Regions from separate parts of the Homo sapiens genome. Here regions 2, 3 and 4 are each linked to region 1. Evidence: fine-mapped expression QTL. A gene starts in region 1. Each other region holds a variant in brackets. All regions are shown on one strand. Distances are from middle to middle. Region 1 holds the start of USP36 (ubiquitin specific peptidase 36). Region 2 overlaps CYTH1 (cytohesin 1). Region 3 overlaps RBFOX3 (RNA binding fox-1 homolog 3). Region 4 overlaps USP36 (ubiquitin specific peptidase 36).

Region 1 (7,567 bases):
AGAAAAGCCAAGCAGGAGAGTGGGGAGATCACAGGCTTTGGAATGTGGTGGCCCCGGGAGGTTCTATCATCCTTAGCTATGAAACCCAGGGACAACTACTATGACTTCTCCAAACCCCCTATTCTACTGTAAAATAGCAACAAAAATAATAGGCTTGGGAAGTGCTTTAGAGCTTGCTACATACTACAGTCCCTAACAGAGGATCGATACTGTTGGTGCAGCTGCATGGAAACTGTAACCAAGAAGAGACCCCTGCACCTCTCCAATCGCTACCTTTGTATCCACCACTTGCCCTCCCCTACCCACCACCTCTCAACTTAACCTTCCCAAACACAGCACAGACTATCTGAGTCACAATTTCAAAAATATGTCCCTTAAATTGCTCACTCACATCAGAAAAATGATGACTTCCTCTGGTATTCAGTACCCAGCCTGCCCTCAGAGAATCAACAAGTCAAGTGTGCCCCAAAATTCTGCTCTAGTGAAAGTAAGGACTTCCTCCAGCACCTCATATTAAGCCATTCAAATTTATCACTGTGGATCATCTAATTCTATACATGGATCAAGTATCTTTTTCTACAAAAACTTCTGTAAAGAAAAGCCAGGTGCAGTGGCCTGGGCCTGTCGTCCCAGATGCTTGGGAGGCTGAGGTGGGAGGATAACTTGAGGGCAGGAGCCTGAGGCTGCAGTGAGCTATGATTACGCCTGTGAATAGCCAGTGCAGTCCAGCCTGGGCAACATCGTGAGACCCCATCTTTAAAACAAAAAAAATCGTGGCTCACGCCTGTAATCCCAGCACTTGGGAGGCCGAGACGGGTGGATCAGGAGGTCAGGAATTCAAGACCAGCCTGGCGAAGATGTTTCTCTACTAAAAATACAAAAAAACTAGCCAGGCATGGTGGCAGGCGCCTGTAATCCCAGCTACGCAGGAGGCTGAGGCAGAGAATTGCTTGAACACGGGAGGCAGAGGTTGGAGTGAGCCGAGATCGCGCCACTGCACTCCAGCCTGGGCAACAGAGCAAGACTTGGTCTCAAAAAAAAAAAAAAACAAAAAACAAAAAACTTCTGTAAAGAAATTTCAGAAGCTTATTTAAAAAAAAGCATTATAAGTTGTCTGATTTGAGAAAATAAAAGAGCCTTTTCTCATGAGAATTATCAAAGACTTCTCACCAACTGAACAATCACTGCTGCGTCACATGCAGACAATTCAACGGAATCAAAAAATACACAGAAGCCTCGCAGACTCACCTGGGATGTGCAGACTTGGGCCTGCTGTCCTACTGCGGCATGGAACCAGGATCTTAACGGAGGGCTGAGTTTGGTTGGGCAGGTGCTACGCGGAGCTCCTGAATGTAAGCGCTCCTGGACTGTGGCCTGTTCAAACACCGAAGCCGCAGAGCGGGCGTCAGAGCCTGTGGGAGGGACAGGGAGACCATCAGTGGAGGCGACTCTTCCTGTGCCTTCTCTTCAGCTACTTCCCAGGGATGCGGCGCGCACCGGGAACCCTCTACCACGAAAAAGCCGTCCAAGGAGCATCCACGCGTGCACTCAGGATGAGGCGGGTGGACCGTACTACCTCATCACCAGTTGTTGTAATGCACACGATATGAACACCTTAACCTTGACCCCAGACAAGCCCAGAGAAGGAAAACCTCCCCAACACCTGCCAGTCAGCTCCAGTCTAATCTTATTTCCAAAGAGTAAGAGGTAATAAATCCCCAAGTTTTGGATTTAATGAACCAGTAAAACTTCAATAACAACAACAACAAACCTCAGGGAGTAATAGGAGTTGCCAAAATTTTGCTTTGCTAAGTGTGGATTTTCTCTTTCATTACCATCTACGATCACTATGATTACATAAAATTAAGGTTCGTAAAAACAGTTTACAGTGAAAACATTCAAACACACAGATGGAGAACCGCACAGGGAGCACATGAGCCCCCCTTATTCAGCCTCAGTAACTACATCTGACCCATCCTGAGTCACTTCCCATCCCCAGGTAATTCTACAGCAAATCTCAGACCTATGACTTCATCCATAAATAAAAGCATACCAACTCCCGAAAAATGTGTAAGGAAATGATCTCAGAATAAAAGCCATCTACAAAGTGAAGACATCCAGTCGTATTAAAAACTCCCCACAATATCACTGCTTTCGGTTAGGACTCACATCTACCCTGGAAGGTGAGAACTCTGTCATGCACAACCAACGCTTGAGAACCACTTAGGGAGGGGATAAACGAACCTTGGGAGATGTAACCCAGTTTCACTCGAGATAAGTAACTTTGAACTTAACCCACTCCTTAATGTAGATGCAGAGATTTTGAACACAATTTTTCAAGTGGGACAGGTCAATCTCTACTTCACCAATTCCACCTAAAACATTAAGCAATAACCTAAACAACGCTCGCTCGCTCTCTGACGTGTAGGAGCCCGAGACAAGTGTTCCTGTAATCACTAGCAATCCCTCCGACGCACACACCATCCACACTCTACCCAACTCAGGAAGGATGCTCTCTCTTGTCCAAGGACAGCACAGGCCTCATCCACATTTCCACCTGCGCGAACCCCAGCCAGCACCATTTAGGCTCATTCCCGCTCCCTCCTCCTTCTAAAGTCACTTTTCCAGGATGAACTGCAACGGACGCTCGCAGGGTCAACCACGTGCTGGGGAGAGGAGCCCACGGAAGCAGCGGCCTCCCGGGGCCCAGCGCCGCGCTCCAGGGGCCTCCCGGGCGACTCCGCAGCGCCTGCCCCGAGCCCGGCCGCGGACACAGCGACCCGAGCACCTCTCCCCGAGCATGGCTCCGTGGCGAGCGTTACGTAAACGGGGGCGCGCGGAGTCTCCCCTCTCGTGTGTCTGGGTTTGGCGGCCGCCACTCCAGCCCCAGGCCCAGGACCCCCACGCCACCCGCCAGAAGCAGCAGCATCGGAACCGCACCCCGCCCCGGGCTCCATGGCCTCCTCCGCAACCACGAGGAAGGTGCCCGCCCCGGGGCCGCACCCGCCCCGCTGAGCTCTGCGGCCGCACGCGACGCCCTCGCCCTGATTCCGACTTCAACCTCTCCGAAGTTGACCTGAATCCTGCACAGACAGCGGGCCCCGGCGACCCCCATCACCGGCCCGGAGCCCGGGGGACGGCGGAGACCGGCGAGGACAGCCCGGCCCCGGACCCTCCTCGGGAATACCCGGGCTCTGGAGAAGCGAGCTCGCGAGCGGGCGGAGCATCCCGGGTCCTCCTCGGGGACGGCCGAAGCCCTGCGCGGACCCGCGCCCACGTTCTCCCTGAGCGTCCCGGCTGCGCCCGCCAGCCCTTCCCGCGCCCCAGGCCTCGCGGAACCCCCCGCCCCGGTCTCGTCCCCAGGCCTGCGCACCGCCCCGACCCGACCCCAGCCTACCCCGGCCTCTCCGCGGGCGCGCCACAAGCCTACGCAGCCCTGGCGACTCCTTCGGCCCGCGGCCCAGCACGCGCACCATCCGGGCCTCCGGCGCCTCACACACGTGTCACCGCGACGCTTAAAGGCGCCGCACCCAGCGTTCGCGCTGCGCTAACTCCGAAAGGGTTGGGAGGCTTTAAGAGGCGGGGCTAGATTCCGCTAACTCCCTGTCCCCGCCCACCGCCGCTTCCGTGTCGCCTACGTCACCTCCCCATCACGGGACCCCGCCAGCCTACGTGATGACGCAAGTGCGCAGAGCCACAGGCGCTCCCGCCCCTGTGCCGCGGCAGGGTGACGTCTCCGCAGCGCACTAGAGGTGCCGCTACTTCCGGGTCGGCCGAGCACACCTGGCGGCGTGGCGGACGCCTGAAGTGTGACAGTGGCGCGCGCCCCCGCCCCAGAACGGGGACTCGAGGGACTTTGCCCACCCCTGCAACAGCCCTCCCGCGCTGTCTCCCGGGCAGGGAGAAGGCTGGGCTCCCCCACCTGCCCCTGGCCGTCAGGTGGCTGTGGAGAAGCGGAGGCGCGGGCGCTCGGCCTTAACGTCCCGGGCTCTGGGGCCATCCGTGACTCCCACACGCGGAGCACCTGCAGTTTGGGGAGGGAGGGATCTGGGAGCGATCGGCCAAAGCCTGGGGCTGCCGAGGAAATGGCTCTTCGGAATTAGGGATCTGAGAGTGTGAGATTTGACCTTTGTAGGCTGGTGGCGGCTGTGCAATCTCTAGCTCCACCCACTCCCTCCAAAAGCTTTGTCCTCTGACAGCTCTGCGAAGGTTTTAGCTGAGTATTTGTGAGCACGTATTTCTTTTGCAGTATTTTTAAAAATCCTCTTGATCTGAGGCAACTTCGCTGGCTTCCTCCCCATTCCCTTGGGCAGGTTGAGAGTGTTGGTTCCTGGCCTGACCTCAGAAACTCAGAGAAGCACAGGATGGGCATAAACTACTTTATCCAAAAGGCAGAACTTTGCAAACACAGTCGTATCTGCTGTGTCTTTTTTGATGTAAGTAGGAATGATGAGTAGGGTGAAGTCACAGGTAAACAACCCAAAACGAATTTCCATGCCCTCCCCACGGATCCTAAAGCAGGGACTGGAGATGGGGAGAGAGGCTAGATGTACTTGGAACAAAATTCACCTTGTATTTATTACCTGGGCGCTGGTGTTTTTTGAAAAAAGCAAACAAGATAACCATATTAGTCTGATGCTGAGACTATGCCCTATCTGTAAGAATCCTTGGGCTGGGCGCGGTGGCTCACCCTTGTAATCCCAACACTTGGAGGCCAAGGTGGGCGGATCACCTGAGGTCAGGAGTTCGAGACCAGCATGGCCAACATGGTGAAACCCCGTCTCTACTAAACATACAAAAATTAGCTGGGTGTGGTGGTGGGCGCCTGTAATCCCAGCTACTCAGGAGGCTGAGGCACGAGAATCCCTTGAACCTAGGAGGCGGAGGTTGCAGCGAGCTGAGATGTCGCCACTGCACTCCAGCCTGGGCGACAGAGCGAGACTCCGTCTCAAAAGAAAAGAAAAGAAAAGAAAAAAAGGCAGGGCACAGTGGCTCACGCCTGTAATCCTAGCACTTTGGGAGGCCGAGGCAGGCAGATCGCTTGAGGTCAGGAATTCCAGACCAGCCTGGCCAACATGGTGAAAACCTGTCTCTACTAAAAATACAAAAATTAGCTGGGTATGGTGGCGCACGCCTGTAATCCGAGCTACTAGGGAGGCTGAGACAGGAGAATCGCTTGTACCTGGGAGGTGGAGGTTGCAATGAGCTGAGATCGTGCCATTGCACTCCAGCAGCCTGGACAACAGAGCAATACTTGGTCTAAAAAAAAAAAAAAGAAAGAAATGCAACGTAGGTCTCTCACGAAATTAGCCCAAATCTTCAGCCATCTTCTACAGGCTGTGAAACCAGGAGAGGAATTGAGTCCATCTTACCTTGACCTCCCAGGCAGGGAGCGGACCAGGTAATTTTTGGGTGACAATACAACTATTCTGTTAATGCACCTTTTTCTTGAGGTAAGTTCTAATGTGATCCGTTTTGGTTACAGCTTTCTATAACAGAATATTTTATTCTTTCATCTTTAATGTTTCTCTAGTTTTCTCTTTTAGGATTTAGAGATCATTCAGTCTCATCTCAAATATTTCAATTTCCATGTGGTTCTTTCATAAACATTTATCCACAGTGAGCCTGCCCTGCATTCTTTGGGTGTGGCTGACAGTTGCAGCCACCCTCAGGTCTGCGGGGGTGGGTGTGTTGCCCCTGAACTGCAATAGCAGAATTTCTCCCTAGCCTGGCAGGGGAGTGCAATCGTGGACTTGCTTTTCCACCCGCTGGGGTTGCATTTCATAGGTGCCGAGTGCCTGGGGGGCCCAGGCCTTTTCACATGAGGGTTTTCAGCCCAGATGTCCCTCCTGCTCTAGGGGAACCCTTCACATCAGTCAGGTGACTTGCTGGACTGGTAGAGCCTCTGCCATCAGCCTCTGATGCAAAACCTTTTCTCAGGTGTCTGTGCGGTCCATGGAGACCCGAGTTCCCAGGTTTGGGAGGGATGCCACTTTCCTTAGGAAGAACAGCAATGTATGTCGTCCTTCCCATCCATGCAGATGGGACAGGGCTCTCAGGAAATCTGCCATTAGCATCGCCCTAGAAGATGCACAGGCAGAGGCAGCTGCTGGGCACAGGCACTTGGGGAAGACAGGAGCCATGACGCCACGCCACCTGTTGGTACCCAAAGGAAGTGGCTCTTTTGGCTGCTTGGCACCATTCTTATGACCCTTCCATTTTGTTTCTAGTCTCAGAAGGGGTGGAGAAAGTCATCCTTCCTAAATGGTGTTGACTCTCAGACATCTGACCGTGCCAGGAGAATGGCTGTGCAAGGCGGCAGCCCAGGCCCGGGCAGGTGGCGGCCAGGAGTTGGGACCACAGAGGGCACTAGCAAGAGCAGCAGCTGCTCCGAGATGCTTTGGCACAAGTCAGGATACGTATTTTGTAGTTTTCTCTTGTTTTTTATTTTTCTGAGGTGGAGTCTCACTCTGTCGCCCAGGCTGGAGTGCAGTGGTGCAATCTCAGCTCACTGCAAGCTCCGCCTCCCGGGTTCAAGCGATTATCGTGTCTCGGCCTCCAGAGTAGCTGGGATCACAGGTGCACGCCACCACACCCAGCTGATTTTTGTATTTTTAGTAGAGATGGGGTTTCGCCATGTTTGGTCTTGAACTCTTGGCCTCAGGTGATCTGCCCCCCTCAGCCTCCCAGAGTGCAAGGATTACAGGCGTGAGCCACCGCACCCCACCTCCCGGCCTTTTCTCTTGTTTCATTTTGGTAAACTAAATTAGTTTAATACCTCTACCCCATCGGTGGTTGGAATTCCCCACCTCAATCATTTTGGGGGCTCTCTGCCTCCTTTGAATAGGACAGATCTCCAGGGGTTTACCCAGGCTCCGAAGAGCCACTCCAGGCAGCCGGCTGTTTGGGGAGGTGCACCCTGGTCTTCTAGTCTGCGGATTCCCTGCATCGCTCCCCTGGTACTGCTCTCAAGCTCAAGGGTCACCTCAGCCAGATGTGCCCTAGGCTGGCAGAGGTCCTTCCCCTAAATGCAGCTGGGCAGGATGCCACCCTTTCTACAATAAGTTCGGTCCCAGGGATTCCCCCAACACACACACACATACATTCTCTCTTACTCACATCCTCACACACACTCACACACCCCACCACACTCACACACTTTCAAAATCCACCGACTCTCACGCTCACACTCGCCAGCCCTTTCCCTTGCTCTGTCACTTCCCTCCAAGTCCCCGCCCCACACAGCCTCCTGCAGTCCCAGCCCCCTTGGTGCCAGCCATCTCTGGTGCCAGCCATCTCCCCCAAATATCCACCCTTCTGGGCTCCTTTCTGCCCAGAGGGACCTGAAGTTTCCCTAGGAAGCACTTGCTAAAGGCCTCCAGTCTCCAACTCCTGGGGAAGAAGGATCCAGGCCTCTGCCGCACAAAGCCTCCACTGTTCTCTTGGGGCTGGCACCCCTTCCTGTGGCCCTGTGGCACCAAACAAATTGATTCATCCAGCGAATATTTCTTATTTACTCTGTTCCACATGGTGGTGAGTGAATCAACCCTGGACTCTCCCCACAAAG
Region 2 (7,567 bases), 80 kb before region 1:
GGTGTTCAATAAGTATCTGTTGAATAGATGAATAAAAAACGACCTGGGAAAGAAGCTGCTATAATTTTCCCATTCTAATACATGTAAACACTAGCCGAGGTTCTTAGAACAAAGTTCATTCTGCCAATGCTGAGAGAGGCAGGAAAAAATTTTAATTATATCAGCAACCCAAAAGATTAAAAAAATATTCAGCCGGGTGCAGTAGCTCATGCCTGAATCTCAGCACTTTGGGAGGCTGAGGCGGGCAGACTGCCTGAGGTCAGGAGTTTAAGACCAGTCCGGCCAACATGGTGAAACCCCTTCTCTACTAAAAATACAAAAAAAATTAGCCAGGCATGGCTACTTGGGAGGCTGAGGCAGGGGAATTGCTTGAACCAGGGAGGTGGAGGTTGCAGTGAGCCAAGATCGCACCACTGCACTCCAGCATGGGTGACAGAGCAAGACTCTGCCTCAAAAAAAAAAATTCAAAAAAAAGTTTAAAAAAATAGTAATTCAATGTCAGGAAGGATAAATTAACAAGTATCATCATATACTGGTATGAGGTGTAAACTGATTCACACTTTCTGAAAACCCATTTGGCAGTACATATCAAGAGACTACAAAGTTAAACTCCCTAACCCAGTAAGTCCACTTACAGGAATCTAGCCTAAGAAAATCACTGGAAATGTGAGCAAAACTTTATCCACAAGAATGTTACAGGATTCTTTCTTACAGGAACAAAGTGGAAACTTCTAAATAACAAGACAGGATGATTAATTAAACTATGCTCCATCTATATCATGCTGCCTTTGGCCGAGGCCCCAAGCATCCCTGCATGTCCTTGCTGAGAGTGCCAAACTGCAAGGTCTGTCTTCTTGTAGCTGGCGACATGAAGTTGGTCAAGGAGACTGTAGCATGACATGCCCCCATTGAGGAGAAGAAGCCTGGCCTGTCTATCACTTGCTATAAAAAGTGCTAAGCCCAGGCCCGGTGTGGTGGCTCACGCCTGTAATCCCAGCACTTTGGGAGGCCGAGGCAGGCAGATCACCCGAGGTCAGGAGTTCGAGACCAGCCTGACAAACATGGAGAAACCCCGTCTCTACTAAAAATAAAAAATTAGCCGGGCATGGTGGTGCATGCCTGTAATCCCAGCTACTCGCTAGGCTGAGGCAAGAGAATTGCTTGAACCCAGGAGGCGGAGGAGGTTGCAGTGGGCCGAGATTGCACCATTGTATTCCAGCCTGGGCAACAAGAGTGAAACTCGAAACTCCATCTCAAAAAAACAAAAAAGAAAGAAAAAAAGAAAGGAAAGTGCTAAGTCCTTGGTGGTCCTTGGTTCCTCAGCTGTAGGCAAACCCAATTCATGCATAGACATCATCTGGGCCCATCATGTCACCCCACGAGACTTGAGGTCAGGGGCACCAGCACTTTCATGCTGATATTCCTGCTATTTGCTGTGCGATGTGTACTAATCTGCCTCATTCTGATCCAGTAGGTCTCGTTATCTACTTTCGGCATCCACGGAGTTATGGCATGTGCTTGTGGCCCTAGCTACTCAGGAAGCTGAGGTGGGAGGATTGCTTAAGCATAGGAGATCGAGGTTGCAGTGGGCTATGACAACACCACTGCACTCCAGCCTGGTCAACAGAGTGAGATCCTGTCTCAAAACAGAAAGAAAATTTCCATAATAATAATTTTCTCAATGTTTGCCAAAGTGCTAAAGTAAGAAGGGCACAATTGTAGCCAATCGAAGCCCACTGCCTGAGGTGGCTTCATTTTCAGACTATATGGCAACTGCCCCGAGGAAGGACTAAAAGGTACTCTCCAAAGACACTCTGGGTAAGTGGACGCAGCCTCAGTTCTTCGTAGGTCTCATGCGCCTAGCAGTCTACATCCCAGCGCCAAGCCTCTCTTTCATCCAACGGGGTAGGCAAAGGGGTCTTTTTAGGTTGCTTCCTCACTGTTGTACAGATCAGGGCTCTAAAACTGGCACCTGGCCACTGGCTGCCTAGCAACAGCTGCAACATAAAGAGACGGTATCTCTTAAAAGGAACAAAACAGAAAACCACACAAAGACACATGGGGAAGCTAAAGTGGGTAGGTAGCTATATACTTGGTAGCTATAATAAAGGAGTAAAAACAAAAATCCAAGGTTGGTTATTCTTGCTTCTTTCATCTGTTGAGCCTCTTCTTAAAAACCTCTGTAAGTTCAAAACCCTCCAAGCGGAATACTGAATGGCTTAAAGCAAAACCACATAAATTAGATAGTTACAGCTGAGGAAATGCATTCAACACTCAGCCATCCCTTCCTACAATCATGGACGCACAAATTCTTGTGAAATCATTTTATACACTCAACACGGGAAATGAAGGGAAGCATCTCTGGCCAGGCCAACTCAAGCCAGAGCCTGCCTGTGTGATGTGACCTTGGAGAGAACAGTTAGAGGTTCTGAAGCGTGAGTTTCCACACCTGGGGTCCCCAAATTTAGGGGCATTAGAAGTATATTTGTGTGCATGTGTGTACAAGCATGTGCATGTATGTACGTATTTATTCATTCACTCATTCCTGGATCTGCCCTGGTACGTTTGGTATGGCTAGAGTAAGGAACCAGAATAAATGGCTTTTTTGAAAGATTCCTCCAGGGATTCTGCGGGTTAGTCAAGTATGGGAACCACCATTCTAACCCAAATTTACTAGATTACGAACTTTAAAAGGGAAGGCTAAACAAACCACTTCTGCATGTTCATCTGCCTAGGACATCTGCTACCACAATTGCAAAAGGTGCCCATGTGGAACGGAAAATACATGGTTGAATTTTACAAATTTAGACATATAAAGCTAAAAACTCAAGAAACACTGAATTCCCTCTTTTGACTACTGATGTTTTAATTCTGGCCTCTATCCAAATAGCAGGTTTATATATATATATATATATATATATATATACACACACATACATATATATATGTGTATATATATATATATACACATACATATATATATGTATATATATATACATACATATATATATGTATATATATGTATGTATATATATATACATATATATGTATATATATGTATATATATATATACATACATATATATGTATATATATATGTATATATATATACACATACATATATATGTATATATATGTATATATATAGTTTAAAAGAAAGCAACAACATTCTACTATCTTAAAACCCTCTTTTCTAAACACTAGAAAATCAAAAATCGCATTACAACAGAACTTAAGACTTTTAAATAGAAGTGAAAAAGTAATTTTACACAAAAAGCATCATATACTTATCTTTCTAAAAGTTACAGGTATCAAGTAAGTCTGATGACATCACTTCTCAAAATCAAAATATATCCCAGATGCTCCTCAACTTACAATGGGGTTACTTCCCAATAAACCCATCGTAAAGTCAACCATAAGTCAGAGACAGTCTCTATATATTTTCTTGATAAATGGGATACCCACCTCCCGGGTTCAAGTGATTCTCCTGCCTCAGCCTCCTGAGTAGCTGGGACTACAGGCATGCACCACCACACCCGGCTAATTTTTGTATTTTTTGTAGAGACAGAGTTTCAACATGTTGGTCAGGCTGGTCTCGAACTCCCGACCTTGTGATCCACCCACCTCGGCCTCCCAAAGTGCTGGATTACAGGTGTGAGCCACCGCGCCCAGCCTCGCGATTTCCAAGTTTTCAGTCACATAGCAATGCTACAATAAACACCCTTGTGCACACATTCTGGTACACAACAGCAGTT[C/A]CCCACCTTCTGAGTCCCAACTCAAGAGGTTCTTGTTTTCAGATTTCAAGTTTCAGATCTCCAAGGGGAACTAATTCTCACAGGAACTGCTTTTTCTAGTCCTGCTCTAGGCTGGAATGGGGTGATGTGTAACCTATTTTTGTGTTAAAATCAATTGACCTTGGGAACGTGATAATACAGGGAACTAAAAGCACTCACACTACTCAAAGCTTATTAAAACCTCTTTAAAAATCAAGAGGCAGGGGCCAGGCGCGGTGGCTCACGCCTGTAATCCCAACACTTTGGGAGGCCGAGGCGGGCGGATCACGAGATCAGGAGATCCAGACCAGCCTGGCTAACACGGTGAAACCCCGTCTCTACTAAAAACACAAAAAATCAGCCGGGCGTGGTGGCGGGCACCTGTAGTCCCAGCTACTTGGGAGGCTGAGGCAGGAGAATGACGTGAACCCGGGAGGCGGAGCTTGCAGTGAGACGAGATCACGCCACTGCACTCCAGCCTGGGGGACAGAGCGAGACTCCGTCTCAAAAACAAAAAAAAAAGAGTGTTATTTTTAAAAACTTTTTAAAGCTTAAATTCCTCTTATTAGAATGCTATACACACACATTTATACGTTTGAGAAAACAGTAGTCCAAAGCAAGAGCAGGAAAGGGAAAGAACAGTAGTAGTCAGCTAGACATTTGGTTTTGTATCCTTAACATCTATTCTGAGTGGAAATTAAACCAAATGAGCCTTTAACATAAACGTTTGAAAGAGTAACAGCATCTGGCCTGCTTCCTCCATACAATGAGGTGTCCATCATGTGACATGGGGGAAAACAGCAGATTTCTGGAAAAATAATTACCAAATAATGTTGTGCCAACATCTTCTAGAATAATAAACTTCTTTTTCCTATCAAGGTCCATTGTTCAGGGACATTTCCATTACCTGACAACAGGAAAAATTATCTTTACTCTCAGAGTACAAAAACATTCCTAAGAACAGAGAGCAACAACATAACCTTCTGACTCAAGATAGTCTCTGTTCCGGTAATTTGATGACAAATAGTGTTGCTGATCAGCAGAATATAGAGTGGAAAGGGCGGCTTTTTTGCACATGCCTTCCCCTACCTTTGAATTAGGAGCACTCTTCTAAAACTAGAAATGCTTCACGAAGTCAGACAAAGTCTACAAAGTACTGCAATACTTAATACCCATGAGGCACACTTCCATAAGAAGAAAATGATATGCAGGAAGGATTAAACTGCCCATTCTCACAAGAAACATTCCATGGGCAAAGGCACTAAGGTAGATGTATAGATGTAGTCGGCAGGATAATGGTCCCAAAGATATACATGTCCTAATCACTGGAACCTGTGAACATGTTAAATTCCATGGCAAAAGGGGATTAAGATTGCAGATGGAATTACATCTCCTAATCAGCCAACTTTAGAAGAGGGAGATTATCCTAGAGTATCCAAGTGGGCACACGGATTCTTCCAAATGGAAGAGGGAGGCAGGACAATCAGTGTCAGAGTGATGAGAGGTGAGACTCAATCAGCCACTGCTGGCTTTGAAGATGCAGGAAGGAGCTAAGAGCCAAGGAGTGTGGGCAGCCTTTAGAAGCTGGAAAGGTAAGGAAGTAGATCTTTCCCTAGAGCCTCCAGAAAGAAACACAACCCTGCTGAAATACATTTTGGCCCAGTGAGACCCATTCCAGACTTCTGGCCTCCAAACTGTAAGATAATAATGTATATTGTCTTAAGCCACTAAATTTGTGATAATTTGTTATGGCAGCAACAGGAAACTAATACAATGGAAATGTCCGTCCGGCTGCTTTCTGGATGTTTTTAATCTCAAAAAAAGACTTTTGGCCAGGCACGGTGGCTCACGCCTGTAATCCCAGCACTTTGGGAGGAAGAGGTATGTGGATCACCTGAGGTCAGGGGTTCGAGACCAGCCTGGCCAACGTGGTAAAACCCTGTCTCTACTAAAAATACAAAATTAGCCAGGAGTGGTGGCATATGCCTGTAGTCCCAGCTACTTGGGAGGCTGAGGCAGGAGAATCGCTTAAACCTAGGAGGCAGAGGTTGCAGTGAGCCGAGGCCGTGCCAAAAAAAAAAAAAAGACTTTTAATCCCTCTCAAGATACACACATTTATATACACATTTGTCAAACACCTTAATACTTCCTAGAATAAAGTGGATTCACACCACAAATCACCTTACTGTAGGTTATAGAGTAGTCCCTCCTTATCCACAGGGGATACTTTCCAAGACCCCCCACGGATGCCTAGACCACAAATAGTAGTGAACCCTATATACAACATGTTTGTTCCTATACATACATACCTATGATAAAATTTATAAAGTAGGCAGAGATTAATAATAAACTAATAATAAAGAACATTATAATAAATAATAAAGAACAATAAGTTGTTCTATAAAATATGCTGTAATAAGAGTTACGTGAATGTAGTCTCTCAAAATATTTCCTTGTACTATACTCACATATTTTCAAACCACAGCTAACTGCAGATAATTGAAACCATGGAAGGTGAAACCATGGATAAGGGGGAAAGTATGCTAGCCTCCTCTTAAAGAATTTATTTGCTACACTCATCTTTCAAACATAGAATAGGCCAGGCGCAGTGGCTCACGCCTGTAATCCCAACACTTTGGAAGGCTGAGATAGGCACATCACTTGAGGTCAGGAGTTTGAGACCAGTCTGGCCAACATGGCCAAACCCTGTCTCTACCAAAAATAAAAAAATTAGCCAGGCACAGTGGTGTGCGCCTGCAGTCCCAGCTACTCGGGAGGCTCAGGCAGGAGAATCGCTTGAACCCGGGAGGCAGAGGTTGCAGTGAGCCAAGATCCCATCACTGCACTCCAGCCTGGGTGACAGAGCGAGAGTCTGTCTCAAAGAAAAAACAAAACATAGAATAATCATTTTCTTCTTTTTATAAGCTCACAACTAATACCATAAAATAATATTTCCATCTAAATGTCTTTTTTTTTTTTTTTTAAGACACAGTCTTGCTCTGTTGTCCAGGCTGGAGTGCAGTGGCACTATCTCGGCTCAATGAAACCTCCGCCTCCTGGGTTCAAGCAATTCTCCTGCCTCAGCCTCCTGAGTAGCTGGGACTACGGGCGCACCCCACCACGCCCAGCTAATTTTTGCCAGGATGGTCTCTATCTCTTGACTTCATGATCCACCCACCTCAGCCTCCCAGAGTGCTAGGGTTACAGATGTGAGCCACCGCGCCCGGCCTAAATGTCCCTTTTTCAAGATTTGTACTGAAATCTCTGAATGCATAAAAAATGTCTCTATAAACTTCCCAGCAAGTCAACAGTGAGGAACTCACTAACTGGTTATCAACATAAGCAGTTTCAGCAAGAACCAGGCTTATATATAAACCCCAAAATAATGGAAGAATGAAATTAGATGTATGCACGAGGTAAGAGGGATCTATTTTAACTGCAACTCCCAAGTTTCCATGAGCAATTTCAGTGACCTTTGTTTCTATATCAAAAGCAGAGGGAGTGGGGGAGCATGGATTTAATGATTCAGTCAACAAGCTCTGAGAGCCTACAATGTGCCAGGCCCTGTTTCTGGCATGCACATGGGATAGGGGAGAGTAACAAAAGGGATGAAGATTCCTGCCTTGTGGAGTTTCCACTTCAGCTGGAGAAGACTGACCATGCGTAATAAACATAATGAGTAGGTTCCCGGGGGATGAGCATTATTGGGAGTCAAGCAGGGTAAGGGTGGCAAGCAGAGAGGAGGGGGGCACTGGCTGCTCAAGCAAACAGGGGAAGTCTTGTCGAGAGAGTGCG
Region 3 (7,567 bases), 720 kb after region 1:
TGGGAAAAATTACAGGGTGGATAGTAATTTTGATGTAATATACAATCATTATAACTCTAAAACCAATATTTGAATATTAATTCTATTCCAGGCTCTGTGTTAGGTTCTGATGAGCATAACTTTTTTAATCCTCAGACACCACCATGAGGTGGGGTTTCCTCTCCCTCTTTTATGGAATAGAAGACCCGGGCTTAGAGAAGCTAAAGACTTCTCCAAACCATAGAACATCAACGGACAGAACTCAGCCTCATGAACAGCTAAAATGTACAGTCACAAAAAGCAAAGGAAACCAGCCTGAGGGGAACAAAGAGGGTCCACAGGGCAGGGCAGCCAGAACACAGGCTTGAGTGTCAGGCAGACTTGAGTTGGAATCAGATCTGCCACCACTAGCTGTGGGACCCAAGGCAAATAGTTTCTCTGTGCCTCAGATGTTTCACCTGTGAAATAGGGAGAAGAGTATCCATATCCCCAATGGATGACTGTAAAAATCACATGGGTGATAGCTATCACATACCCAGCACAATGCCTGGCCCATGGTAAGCACTCGGGAAGTGGTGATAGTGATGGCCATGGTGGTGGTGGTAGTGGTGGTGATGGTGGTGATGATGGTAGTTGTGGTGGTGGTGATGGTGGTGATGATGGTAGTTGTGGTGGTGGTGATGGTGGTGATGATGGTAGTTGTGGTGGTGGTGATGGTGGTGATGATGGTAGTTGTGGTGGTGGTGATGGTGGTGATGATGGTAGTTGTGGTGGTAGTGATGATGATGATGACAATGATAATGGTGGTGATGACAGTGGTGGTGGTGGTGGTGATGGTGGTGGTGATGGTAGTTGTGGTGGTGGTGATGGTGGTGATGATGGTAGTTGTGGTGGTAGTGATGATGATGATGACAATGATAATGGTGGTGATGGCGGTGGTGGTGGTAATGGTGATTATGTCAGTGATGGTGGTGGTGGTGGTGGTGATGGTGATGATAGTCATGATGGTGGTGATGGTGGTGATAGTGGTGGCAATGGTGATGATGGCAGTGATGGTGATTATGATAGTAGTGGTGGTGGTGATGGCGATGGTAATGGTGATAATGGCAGTGATGGTGATGACGGTGGTGATGGTGACGATGATGATAGTAATGATGGTGGTGATGGTAACGGTGGTGATGATGATGATAGTGGTGATGGTGGTGGTAGAAGGCAGTGGCAGCAGCAATGGTGTTGGCAACAATGACAACAATTACATTATCCCAGAACTCCAACTACAACAATGTCACCAAAACCCAATACCATACAGTGAAGACAGGCCCCATTGGAAAGATGAATCAATGCCCACAGAGCAAAAGAAATGGAAGATTCTAGAATGTCAGAGCGGGAAAGCATACTTGCAATCATCCAGACGCAATTCCTCCACTTTACAGACGGGGAAGCAAAGACCAGGATCAGGAGAGCAGTTTACCCAAGGTCTCACACCTGCTACCAGCCAGGCCTAGAGAAGACCAAGTTTTCCAAACCAAGCTGGTCTCCACTCCTCCCTCCCTGCTGACCCCTCAAACACCAGTGAGCACTTACTCTGGGCAGGGCACTGGCTTAGGTCCTGGGAACCCAAAGAAATGAATACAGGAAGGGGACGTCAGGACATAAGGCAAAATAGACAGCAGTTCCATTCGGTGGCAGGAGGAGGAGTGCCCGTGTGGCTCCGTAAAGCATTTGAAGGGCCGAGGAGGGGACAGACCATGCTGGAAACAGGGTTGATGGAGGTAGCTCTGCCCAGGCCGCCCACAGGAAGGCTTACAGGGAGCTGTTGGGGAGGAAGTGTTGATTTTAACACAAATGAGCGACAGGAGGAGGAGCTGTAACCACATCCAGAGTGGGTGGGGAGAGGAAATCAAGTACACAAATTAGGGCTGATGTGAAATTAACGGCTACTTAAAAGACTCGAACTAATTTAATAACTTTGTCAGTAATGAAAATATATGAACTAGGAAGAAAAGACGGGCAAAATATTTACTGGCAAAAGGCAAAATAAGCAAATATCTGAGAAGGCAGCACATCTATCAACGTCTTGAGATGGCAAAATTCCTAGGAAGGGAGGGACTTTCTGGAGGCACAGAGTCCACCGAAGGGGAGCGTGGGGAAGGGGACAGAATCAAGGACTCCTCACTAGCAGGGGTTGCTGCTGCCCAGGGGTTCACCCTGTGTCCAGCTGGTGCTCAGGGCTTTCCACGTCTGTCTCCATGGTCCCCAAAGAACTCTACTGAGAAACTGACAAGGCTAGTCATGGTGGCTCATGCCTATAATTCCAGCACTTTGGGAGGCCGAGGATGGTGGATCATTTGAGGTCAGGAGTTCAAGACCAGCCTGGGCAACATGGTGAAACTCCATCTTTACCAAAAAATATAAAAATTAGCCAGGCATGGTGGTGGACACCTGTAATCCCAGCTACTCGGGAGGCTGAAGCAGGAGGCAGAGGTTGCAATGAGCCGAGGTCGCACCACTGCACTCCAGCCTGGGTGACAGAGTGAGACACTGTCTCAAAAAAAAAAAAAAAAAAAAAAAAGGAAAGGAAAGGAAAGAAATTGCCCAGAGAATGAGCAGGTAGCCTGGAATTCCAATCCAGGCAGTGTGGCCCCAGGCCCTGGACTGTTAGTCTCTATCTGGTCTGTTACCCCTGCCCACCCACCCAGCCATGGAGAAGCCAACAAGGGCCACCCTCCAAACCCCGAGAAAACCCAAGTCCAGTCTACTCACAGCCAAGCCCCCATCCCACAGCTGCAGTCTCTGAGATGATGGAACATTTCCAAAGAGACCACGTCTGGGGCCGTGGGAGCCCGGCGGTGGTGGGGGGAAAGGGGGGAAGAGTGGCAAGGACCAAGTGACAGCTGCGGATCCCCAGCCCATTTTCATAGGTGCCACCAAATTAGCGGCTGTTGGTGAGGCCGAAGAAACGAGTCTGAAGAAATGTTCTGTGTGAAATTGGACTAGATTGGCTCTGGTATCAACACAGGCACAGGCTGAGGGAGGCTGGACAGCCATAAACAAAGGCTAACGGCAGATGTCAGCGTATCGGGCAGGCGGGGGCATCTCGTGGGAGGCCTCCTGGGCCACTGCAAGGCCCCAGTTTTGTTTAATATCCAAGCTAATGATCTGGAAGACAACAGACAGGTCACGAGCAAAACCTGCCGAGGACGCAGGGGGTGGCGCTGCGGTTGTTTGCTGGGGCAAGGGGACGGCCGGGAGACAGAGGAGACCTGGAGGGAAGATAAGTAGCTCCCAAGTAAATTGAGATTCAGCTTGAAGAAAAATTACAAACACTCAAATCTAAGAGGAGAAAAAAGCAGCCTGAAACTGCTATTTTCTGAGCCGAGGAAACCCAGGAAGCAGGGAGAGGGGACAGACTCAGATCATCACGAGGTCCATCGCAGACCAGCTTGTGATGTCACACGGGGAGGGTGATTTGTGTTTTGTTCACTGTTTGGGGGCAGGAAAGACATACCCTCAGAGGAGCTGAGAGGGCCACGTGGCCCAGGCCCAGGGATCTACCTGGGTGGCCGCCTTTGCTCTGAGGGGCCTGGCGCAGGAGCAGGAAGGAAAATTGGAGTTCAGAAAAATATTTGCTAACACAGAGAGAGTGAGAGCCAGGATCTCCCGCCCTGTGTGCATGAGAGCCAACCCAGTGTCTGGTGACTGGCAGACAGCAGGGAACCGTCCGGAGGGTCCAGGCGCAGAGACCGGCTGGGGGCAGCTGAGGGGCGGGGCTGAGGGCCCCAGGGTGCTGGCGGATGGGGAGGATCTTCCAAAGCAGAAACACCAGGGCCCACACTTCCCGGCTGCCCAGGAGGGAGGCAAGACCACAGTCAGGACCAGCCCTCCAAGGTGGCTTCGGGCCCCTGAACACTTCCCTCCCGGCCGGGCTCCATGCACTCACTGCTTGAGAGGAAACCAAAATTGTCAGCCCGGACACATTTGGAAATTTACTGGAGCAGCCTTCCCCTGCCTTGCGGGGATTGGGTTAGTCAACCTGTTAACCACATATTCTCACCACCCACAGTGCGCGGAGGCTGCGTGGGCCTGCGGGGAGCAGGAGGGAGAGAGGAGGGACCGAGGCCAGCTGCACAAGAAGGACATTGACAATGGTGGGGGGTGTGCCAGGGGATGCAGGGCCAGCATGGAGGGCACAGAGAGGCTTGCTAAGGAGCAGGACCCCTGTGGCCCAGAGGCTGTGTGGATTCAACGTGGGCAGGTGCCCTCACATAGCAAGCATTTACCAGGCATTGTCCATGCCAGGTGCTCAGCTGAGGGGCAGCAGCTGGACTCCTGAGAGTCCCCACCAGGAGACCCTGGGAGCCCTGGCCAGGCTGGTCTCGGGCCTGGGAACCTCAGTCTTACACGGGCAGCAGCACTGATGACCTCACAATCTAGCACATTAATTGTTCTCACTGGAATAGAGCTCCCTGAGGATGGGAGGGGCGGGGGTTGTCTGTCTTTTTTTCCCATGATTGTCTTACTGGTGCCTAAAATAATACCTAGCATGCATTAAGTGCTTACTAATTATTTATAGAATGGATGGATGGGTAGATGGCAAATGGTGGGTCATGGTGGGTGGTGAGTGGGT[G/A]GTGGATGGTAGATAGGTGAGTGGCAGTTGAGGTGGATGGTGGATAGTGAATGGGTGGATGGGATGGATGATTGGATGGATGGGTGGATAAGTGAATGGGTGAATGGTAAGTGGTGGGTGGTGGATGGGTGGATAGTAGATGGGTAGGTGGATGGTGACTGATGGATACTGCATGATGGATGGGTAGGTGGTGGATTTTGTATGGGTGGATAGTGGATGGTGAATAGGTGGATGGGTGGATAGATGAATGGTGGGTGGACAGATGGGTGAGTGGGTGGGGGGGTGGATGGAGAGTGATGAGTGAATAGGTAGATGGATGGATGGGTGGATGGTGAATAGTGGATGGGTGGATGGATGGGTGGGTGGGTGGATGGATGAGTGGGTCGGTGGGTGGATGGATGGGTGGATGATGGGTGGTGGATGGATGGGTGAATGAATGGGTAGATGGATGGATGGGTGGATGGTGAATAGTGGATGGATGGGTAGGTGGGTGGATGGATGAACAGATGGGTGGGTGGATGTTAGGTGGTGAATGAATGGGTGGATGGATGGATGGGTAGATGGTGAATAGTGGATGGTGGGTAGGTGGATGGGTGGGTGGGTGAGTGGATGAATAGATGGGTGGGTGGGTAGGTGGATGGTCGGTGGTGAATGAATGGGTGGATAGATGGATGGGTGGATGGTGAACAGTGGATGGGTGGAAGGATGGGTGGGTGGGTGTATGGATGAATGAATGGGTGGGTGGATGAATAGGTGGGTGGGTGGGTGGTGGGTGGATGGATCTTGTGACACCCCGTTGCATCTTCAGCAACTCCTAGAAAATCAGGTCCAAAGTAACAGCCTCCCCCACCCACCGTCAATCTCCATCCCAGCCCCAAAAGACTGAGTGTAGAAGTGACTGGGCTGAAATGGTTGCTGGGTGGTCACCGAGCCAGAGCAAAGCACAGGGAAAGGCTGAGGGAGACCCGAAAAGCCTAAGAATGCCCAGCTCTCACATACACAGGGATACTTTGCGAACTGCAGAGCAGAGAACCCATGCAGGTATTCATGCTTCATTCGCCATCCCACTGCAAATGAAGTGCCCTCCCTGTCCTGCTGGCGGAAGGTGTGAGAGGGCAACCACTTTACTTCTCCTTGACTGTAGCCTCAGGACCAGTCAGAACAGGTACTCAAGAAACAGCAATTTCATTTTTATGTTTACCAGGACGGTGGGCACCTAATGAGCAGCTACTGCCCACCCGACCATGGCGTGTCCAGGAACATTGAAGAATACGCACTCCAGGGATCATGGGGTTCAGTGACTTATGTTCCAGCACCAACTCCCCACATCTAAGCCTGCCAGCCAGTGCTGTCACAGCAACCTCACCTCACCACAGCCAGAACACTCGTGGCGGGAAGCCGTTCAGTCTCCATCCACAGATGCCCCCACCCACTTCCCCACCCATGACAGCACGGCCAGCGCGAGAGCTGCAGCTGCAGGTGCTTCCCGAGCTTCAGCCTGTCACTGGGTGGCATGCGGAGGACTTCACCTGCGTCCTCTCCTTTTCTCAGCTGCCCCAGGGGGTAGGAAGGATGCTTGGTCCCATTTCACAGTTGGGGAAACGGAAGCTCATGGGGATTCAATAACTTGTCCAAGACCACGTGTGTAATAAGAAGTGAAGCCAGCATTTGGACCCCAGCCAACTCTATGGGCCAGGCTCCCCACCAGACAGAGCTGGGGGCGCCTGGCCTCTCCCACAATCAGCTGCACCCTCAAAGGAGGATGTGTTCACAATTCAAACAAATAGACCTTGCACTACAGTGAGTCCAAAAGAGGAGTCTCAAAATCTTTAGAGATTTGGAACAGATGCTTAGAACTTAGTAAGGTGACTGCTTTGCAAAGGGTCCTTTTGCCATTTTAAAAAAGTCACTACCATGTATGCCCCTGGGGGCTTAAGTTCACCACCGTGCTCCAAGGGTTCAAAGGGAGTGTCAGGGGTGCCAGAAATAGAGCCCAGCCTTGCCAGGGCTGAGCAGCCGGCAAGCCCAGCTTCCAGGAAGAAACGCTGGACAGTCAGCCCTTCCCCAGGCTCTCCAAATCCTAGACCTCCCTCTGCTCCAGTCACCCCCAAGGATTAAGGGTGAGCAGAGACCACCACTGCAGATTCAGATGACAGAGAGCAAGGGTCGCCAAACTCAGGAGTCCCCAGAGACACACGAACGAGGCTGACCCCACACCCCAGCTCCACGAGGCCACTGGGTCAGCGCCTTTCCATCAGCCGATGTCACCGCTGAAACTGAAAAGCGGTGCGTGTTGGTGACAGCAGTGAGTGCCCAGTGTATGCAGACCCCTCGAGGCAAGCACCACCCAGCTGGGCACTGAAGCAGGTGTCCTCACAGCAAACTCTGCAAAAGGAGCCCTCCCTTCATCCCGGCCCGAGTCACAGAGCAGCAACCAGCGTCCTGAGGGCAGCCCTCACCTCTTCCCAAGAGAGGGGCACATGAGGGTAGGGACTTAGACCCAAAGCAGGCTCAGGCTCCCGTCCACACCTGTGTCTGGTGGGGACGGGCAGGAACGCCCAGCAAAGATGTCATCCCTGGCATCAGGGGGAGGGACATTGGGCTTCCCATGCATGGTGCTATGAGTCCCACTGCTGGGTGGGCAGCAGAAGAGATGGGCAGCGGCCCACACAGCTCACCTCATGGGGACAAGCTAATCACTCCATTCCAAAATGCAAGCTGGCAGCCACTCAGCAGCCACCAAAGGCCACCAAAAGGGGCAGACCAGTACGTCTGTGACATGCATTAGCAAATTCATTAGTGAAATTAATTCTCCCCCTAAACAGCTGAGATTGTGTTAAACAAAGCCTTGTAGAATGGTTCGTGGACTCCTTTTTTCTTTATTCCTGCCTGCAAGGAATAGCATGCCGGCTGAGACTACTGGGAACCGGGAATGGAAGTCCTGAGCCCTCACCCGAGTCG
Region 4 (7,567 bases), 24 kb before region 1:
GTCAGTGGGGAGGAAATAATCCCATTGCCGATGTTCTTCTTGGAGTGATCTGGAATCACACTCGGGCGGCCGGGAAGGGAGGAGGAGCCTGTCCTGGAGATGAGGCCCTCGGGACTTTTCTTAGAGCCTGGAATTCTGTCAAAGGAAGAAAACAAGTAGGGAATTCTCTTACTAGGCATTACAGAAACGGAGAGAATTAGAATAAGTTAAGGCGGGGCAAAGGCAGAAACACGGCCTGGGGAAACCCTGCCAGTCCTAACCACTTCTCTGGAATCTCCCTTTGCCTTTCAACCACAGTGAGGCTGAGAGATCAGCCCCAAGTATCTGCTGAATATAAGCAGAGCAAGGGCAAATTAGAGTCAGAATTCCTCCAAGATCAGAGTTCAATGCACCAGAAAGCAAGAACCTCAAACACCTCAGCCACACTCTGCAGAGACGTACAAAGCAGCAAAAATGCCTCAGCTGCCACGGTCTCCAGCCTCCAGGTCAGTGACAGCCAGCTCCAGGAGAAGGCCCCTCCAGAGAAGCTCTGCAGCAGCACCCCCACAAACACGTCCTTCCCAGCATATCCCTACAGGGGCAGCTTCCCCACACGGGAAGGGGCATTGGCTGGCTACCATCCAGGGAGCAGTACCTCTAATTTGGGGCAATACTATAAATGGTGACTTTCCTGTTTACATTCAAAACAGCATCAATGTGAGGGCAGATGGGATCCTGTCCTGACCTTCCCAAGGCTCTGGCTTTACTAAAAAGTGTCCTTCCCTGTGGACGGTCTCTATGACACATGACAAATCCCTCCAGTGGAATTCCCAATTACCTTCAAACAAAAAAAGGTTAGGGAGGCCCACCGGTATAAGAAAAGAGCAGAGGGAGTGAGCTCATCTGGGGAGGGCGTGAGTTTATTACCGCAGATAGAACAGCACGTAGGCCTGCTGGTTCAGAACCACCTTGACGTTGCTGGAATGGACCAAGGAATCATTCATCTGGTACCACTGTCCATTGCTTGCCTGAAGCAGCCAAGGATGTTGCAGAAAACAAAACAATCAACAAGCATCCCATTATCCTCACTTTTTAAAAAGGGAATAAAAAATCTGTTAGTTGCTACATTTCCAAACACTATTAATAATCAACAGGTAACAACTTCTATTAAAACGTGTAATATTTTCATAACTCGGAATGTGACCCCAAAGTGTGCTCTGCGTCCCAGTTCCTTCCTAGTGCCCCAACAGATAGGAACTGTCCCTTCTAAAGGACATTCAGGCAGTGTCATCACCATGGCCGATTTTGCCAGGGTTCTAAGGATGGCACCAGAAGCGGCTGCCTCTTCCGTGTCTCCCTGCAAGTCTGAGAACACTAGATTCTGGTGCAACACTTCTGTAAAGGGCATCTTTTCACTCCACGCAGAGAGGCAACAACGAGGACTTGAATACAACCACAAAACATCACACTTTTCACAAAGTAAGTGCTCTACAGAGGCCGCATCTGGATGTGCATGGGTGCTGAAACCTGTCCCAGGAGGCAGCTGCACTGACACAAGCCTCTCACCTTCACGTAGCAGTAATAGTGCCCGGCATGGCAGCTGTAGCCCGAGTGCACCAGGACAGCATAGAGTCCATACATGACAGGATCACCATTATTCTGGGACATATACGGACGTATGTTGAGGAATTCCGGATAGCCTACATCCTGTTTGAAAAATCAAGGAAAAGACAAATAAAATTCACTTTGAGAGTAAAGATCAATTTGCCCTTTCCATCCACAACCACACAAAATGCCCAGCTTGTCTGGTCTTTAACAATTTGGGGGCCGGGCACAGTGGCTCACGCCTGTAATCCCAGCACTTTGGGAGGCTGAGGCAGGGGGATCACCTCGAGGAGTTCGAGATCAGCCTGACCAATATAGCGAAACCCCACTTCTAATAAAAATACAAAAAATTAGCTGGGCATGGTGGTGCACTGCCTGTAATCCCAGCTACTCAGGAGGCTGAGGAACAAGAATCACTTGAACCCGCGAGGCAGAGGTTGCAGTGAGCCGAGATCGAGCCACTGCACTCAGCCTGGGCGACAGAGCGAGACTGTCTCAAAACTGCCCCGCCACAAACAAGAAAAAGACAATTTGGGGCGAATGGGTGTGCAGCAACGCTGTGCAGGAGCTCCCCCAGGCAATGATTAAAAACCAAGATGCTGGCCAGGTGCGGTGGCTCACGCCTGTAATCCCAGCACTTTGGGAGGCCGAGGCGGGTAGATCACAAGGTCAAGAGATTGAGACCATCGTGGCCAAGATGGCGAAACCTTGTCTCTACTAAAAATACAAAAATTAGCCAGGCGTGGTGGCACGTGCCTGTAGTTCCAGCTACTCAGGAGGCTGAGGCAGGAGAATCGCTTGAAACCAGGAGGTGGAGGTTACAGTGAGCCGAGATCATACCACTGCACTCCAGCCTCGCAACAGAGCGAGACTCCATCTCAAAACAATCAAAACAAACAAACAAAGAAAAAACACCAAGATGCTGAGAAGTGAGTCTTCTCCAGCCAGCCTATGGGAAACTTTATTGTCCCATCAAGCAATGCAGGATCTGTTCTTGTCTTTGTCAAGCATCTCCATTAGTTCTCTCACCACCTGGTTCCTAACGATCAAATGAGAAGGGTCACTCATTTTCTTTCCCTCCACTTTACAGGAACATTGTTGGTGGGAGAAAAGGGAGAGAATGCTGGGTTTTAGATCTTCAGAAATAAAAGTGCTGAATTAATATAGCCAACTGCTACCGCAAGTAAGACTTTTAATCAACTGGATCAGAAGAAAGGTCATGCTAAAATGTCTTCCCAAAACTGACCAATTTTTCATAGAAAAAAATACACGCACACATATACATAACATGCATACATATATGCATACATGCACGCATAAAATACATGCACACATATATACATACATGCATACATACATCGTATACACACATGCACACATATATACATACACACACACATATGCATGCATACACATGTACGCATATACATACATGCACAACACATACATGCACGCACACATGCATACGCACACATACACACACATATACACACATGCATGCACACACATATACATACACACACATATAATACGTGCACACACATATATACATACATGCACACACATATATTCTTAGCAGTAATAGTGCCTGGCATGGCAGCTGTAGGCTGAGTGCACCAGGACAGCACAGAGCCCACATGACAGGATTGCCATTATTCTGGGTCATATACAGACGTGTGTTTAGGAACTCCGAAAAACATACGCATAATTTTTTTTTTTTTTTTTAAGAAACACAGTCTCGCTCTGTCACCCAGGCTAGAGTGCAGTGGTACATTCATAGCTCACTGTAACTTCAAACTCCTGGACTCAAGCAATCCTCCTATCTCTACCTCCCAAGTAGCTGGGACTATAGGCACGCGCCACCATGACTGGCCAATTAATAAAAATTTTTTAGGCCGGGCATGATGGCTCACACCTATAATCCCAACACTTTGGGAGGCCGAGGTGGGTGGATCACTTGAGGTCAGGAGTTCAAGACCAGCCTGGCCAACATGGTGGAACCCCGTCTCTACTAAAAATACAAAATTTAGCCAAGCATGGTGGCACACATTTGTGGTCCCAGCTACTTGGGAGGCTGAGGCAGGAGAATCGCTTGAACTTGGGAGGCAGATATTGCAGTGAGCTGAGATGGTGCCACTGCACTCTAGCCTGGGTGACAGAGTAAGACTCCGTCTCAAAAAAAAAAACAAAAAAACCAAAATTTTTTTGTAGAGACAGGGTCTCACTATGTTGCCCAAGCTGGTCTTAAACTCCCAGTCTCAAGCAATCCTCCCACCTCAGCCTCCCTAAGTGCTGACATTAGAGTTGTGAGCCATTGTGCCCAGCCTAAATCATTTTTTTAAACTGAGTTGTGGGATTTGTTGAAATGCATAGATCTTCAGTATATAGATCAAAGAGTTTTGACAAGTATATACTGATGGACATGCAGAACATCAACTAGAAAATTCCCACATCCCAGTCATTGCCCCCATCTCAAATATTCACTGTTCTGATTTCTGTCACCATTAATTTTGCCTGTTCTTAAACGTCACATACCATCAGTCATGTGCCACATAACATGTTTTGGTCAATGACAGACCACATATACAACAGCGATCCCATAAGATTATAATACTGCATTTTCACTGTACCTTCTCTATGTTTAGATACACAAATACTTCCCATTGTGTTGCAACTGCCTACAGTATTCAGGACAGGAACAGGCTGTGTAGGTTTGTGGCCTAGGAGCAATGGGCTATACCATACAGCTGGCTCCGTCATCTACGTCTGTGTAAATGCACTCTATGATGTTCACACAGTGACAGAATTGCCTGGTGACACATTTCTTAAAACATGCCCTTGTGGTTACA[C/T]GACACCTGAGTCTACGACATTAAGAATCTGCAAACACATTTGAGAAATGCTGACCTAAGCAAGCCCCCACCACTACCAGTGAGGAAACGGAGGCTCAGCCAAGGGTGTCATTCCAAACCACATAACCAGGCTCTCAGAACAGAACTCTAGATTTTTATGAGATACAGACATCTACTGGGCACGGTGGCTCATGCCTGTTATCCCAGCACTTTAGGAGGCTGAGGCAGGCGGATCACCTGAGCTCAGGAGTTCGAGACCAGCCTGGCCACCATGGCAAAACCCCATCTCTACTAAAAATACAAAAATTAGCCAGGTGTGGTGGTGGGCGCCTTAATCCCAACTACTCTGGAGGCTGATGCAGGAGAATCACTTGAACCCAGAAGGTGGAGACAGCGCCACTGCAATCCAGCCTGGGCATCAGAGCAAGACTCTGTCTCAAAAAAAAAAAAAAGAGAAAAAAGAAAAAAGAAACACATCTTCTATGAAAATGCCACTATAGGCCAGGTATGGTGGCTCACACCTGTAATCCCAGCACTGTGAGAGGTCAAGGCATGCAGGTCACTTGAGCCCAGGAGTTTGAGACCACCCTGGGCAACACAGCAAGATGCTGTCTCTACAAAAAACTTTTTAAAAAATTAACCAGGCATGGTGGCATGTGCCCACAGTCCCAGCTACTCAGGAGGCTAAGGCAGGGGGATCGCTTGAGCTTGGGAGGTCAAGACTGTAGTGAGCGCTGATTATGCCACTGCACTCCAGCCCAGGTGACAGAGTGAGACCCTGTCTTAAAACAAAATGAAATTTAAACAATAAAATACCATCGTGTCAAAAGTAGTTTTTCTAAACTCCATATTTCATAAAAAGCCAGAGCATGCAACGGCACCTGTTCTAGACATCAAAAGGACATGGACAATGCAAGTCCCACCGCCCAGTGCTCATCACACTCATCTGGAGAACCCTGAAAGTCCCTGCCAGGACCAGCCCAAGCACAACCAGAAGCTGCGGTAAATCCATTAAGACAGTGGCCCTGGAACTTGACTGTGTATAACAAGCATTCAGGGATTTTGCAAAAATGCAGATTCCTGGGCCCTGTCCTCCAGAGATTCAAATTCACTGGCACTGGGATAAACCCAGAAACGTCTATTTTTAAAAGGCGTCCCAGGTTGCTTCCCCTCTCTGTGACTGTCTTCCCGTCCTGGACAAGGGCGAAACTACAGTCCCTACTTCACAATATGTGTAGAACCTTTAGAACAGGGACAGGTACTGTGTAAACAGCAGCTATCAAACTCGTGGCTATCACTTTCTTCGTGTTATTCTGATGCCGACTGTGGCCCACGGAGCTGCCTGGGATGGTGTCACGAGCGCTCACCTTGGTGATCTTCCCCCCGCTGAAGTTGGCAAAGCGCTTGAGGGAAAGGGTTAAGACGTTGGATGTTCTGTGGATGGTGAAGCGCTTGCTGGCTGGAACCTTCTTCTTGCATCTATGAAGAAGGTGATGAGAAAGATTAATGAATGATTGATTCGTGCTCTGAAAAATGTTGTCTTAACGCTAAGTTAATAACAGCAACAACTGCTCTGTAATAGTGGAATCTTCATCAATGAGATTTCGACCTTCTGCTCCTCTCAAAATCACATTAAGCATGCCTCAAGTAAAGGAAAGCTACCACAGGGAAATAAGACTACAGAAAGTGGGAAGATTCTAAAGCAAAAAAATAAAAGTACTGTACCCACCAGGAAACTAAATAAAATACAGGAAAAAGTTGCTTTGGGCCAACACAGGAAAGAGCAAATTAAAGCAGATGTGGCTGAGTGATAAAACGGGCAGGCAGGAAGTCAACGTAAGCAAAGCTAGAAGATGCGCAAACACAGGGAGAGAAAACAGAAGCAGAGGCGCGCAGCTTGGAGAGCTGCAGGAAACAGACCTAAAGAAGAGTAAAGCAGAATTAAGAATATATTCTTTAGTGCCTACAGCTTTACAAGGACCTAGATATAAAGATATTCAGCCGGCTGTAGTAGTGTGATCCCAGCACTTTGGGAGGCAAGGCAGGAAGATCACCTGAGTTCAGGAGTTCGAGACCAGCCTGGCCAACAAGGTGAAACCCTGTCACTACTAAAAATGCAACAAATGACAAAGTAAGAGTTCTATCTGCAGAAACGGAAAAATGTCCAAAACCAGTTAAGTAAAAAATGAAAGCCAAAGAAAACACTCCTTAAGAGGCAAGAGAGCAGCTGGTTGGGCACAGTCCCTGGGGCGGCCGCCCGGTGCCAGCCAGTGTGAACTGATGTGAGCTCGTGCTCTGCCACGTCCTCTTGGTGTGGCCCCATGGCTGGTCACTTCACTTCTCTGTGCCTCAGTTTCACCATCCCTAGCAATGGGAAACCACAGCCCCTACTGCACAATATATGCGGCATCTTTAGAACAGGTATGGTGTAAACTGTAGCTATAAAAATCATAGCTATTGCTTCATTCGTGTTATTTAGAAGTTTGAGTTTTTAGGACACACATAGGTTCCTCAAGAAATGCGAGCAGCGGTCACCGCTAAGGAAGAGTGGGTGGGCACAACACTGTCAGGTGAGGGGACTTATTTCCCGTCTGGTATCAGTCTTCTGCCACAAGCAACGTGAAACTTACTTAGCACACATGTAGGCATTCTCTCCACTCAGGACATCTGCTTTCACAAAAAGTTCCAGAGCACGCACAATATTCGCAGCTTGCTGAGGAGGACAAAAACAGGGAGTAAAATACACAGCAGAGGAAAAAGGCTGATTCAAGAAATGCCAAATTTAAGGTCTTTTTTAGGCTGAGGCAGCAAATCACAGAACTTAGACTCGCATAAAAATTTGCCCACTAGCTGCCAGATTGGGACTCCTTCTCCAGAGACAAGAAATGAAAGCAGCCAGGAACAGCGGCTCACGCCTATAATCCCAGCACCTTGGGAGGCCGGGGCAGGAGGATCATTGAGGCCAGGAGTTTGAGACAAGCCTGGGCAACATAGCAAGACCCCTGTCTCTGCAAAGAAATTTAAAAAATTAGCCAGGCGTGGTGGTGCATGCCTGTAGTACCAGCTGTGTGGGAGGATCACTTAAGCCTAGAGGTCAACACTACAGTGAGCTATGATTGCGCCACTGCACTCCT

The links. PIP is the estimated chance that this variant, and not a neighbour inherited with it, causes the effect. A credible set is the group of variants that fine-mapping cannot tell apart.
Region 2: its variant is the best candidate, but not a certain one, in a credible set for the expression of USP36 in esophagus mucosa (GTEx, PIP 0.79).
Region 3: its variant is the best candidate, but not a certain one, in a credible set for the expression of USP36 in uterus (GTEx, PIP 0.60).
Region 4: its variant is the best candidate, but not a certain one, in a credible set for the expression of USP36 in whole blood (TOPMed, PIP 0.57).

What each region holds. Positions count from the first base shown.
Region 1 is chr17:78,837,339-78,844,905 of GRCh38, forward strand. It overlaps USP36 (ubiquitin specific peptidase 36), which reads right to left and starts at 3,476. Exons shown (of 21, transcript NM_001385174.1): 1 at 3,398-3,476; 2 at 1,249-1,412. It overlaps LOC124904067 (a long non-coding RNA gene), which reads left to right and starts at 3,776. Exons shown (of 2, transcript XR_007065923.1): 1 at 3,776-7,567. RefSeq lists enhancers at 930-1,444, 1,445-1,959, 3,554-3,743 and silencers at 2,884-3,403, 3,864-3,963.
Region 2 is chr17:78,757,460-78,765,026 of GRCh38, forward strand. All of the region lies in intron 1 of CYTH1 (cytohesin 1), which reads right to left. Among named protein-coding and RNA genes, the nearest start is that of CYTH1, 21 kb to the right of the region's middle. The variant C/A (reference allele first, on the strand shown) is at 3,755.
Region 3 is chr17:79,554,699-79,562,265 of GRCh38, forward strand. All of the region lies in intron 1 of RBFOX3 (RNA binding fox-1 homolog 3), which reads right to left. Among named protein-coding and RNA genes, the nearest start is that of RBFOX3, 53 kb to the right of the region's middle. The variant G/A (reference allele first, on the strand shown) is at 4,607.
Region 4 is chr17:78,812,867-78,820,433 of GRCh38, forward strand. USP36 (ubiquitin specific peptidase 36) reads right to left here. Exons shown (of 21, transcript NM_001385174.1): 9 at 7,064-7,146; 10 at 5,801-5,912; 11 at 1,546-1,686; 12 at 907-1,007; 13 at 1-135. Among named protein-coding and RNA genes, the nearest start is that of USP36, 24 kb to the right of the region's middle. The variant C/T (reference allele first, on the strand shown) is at 4,434.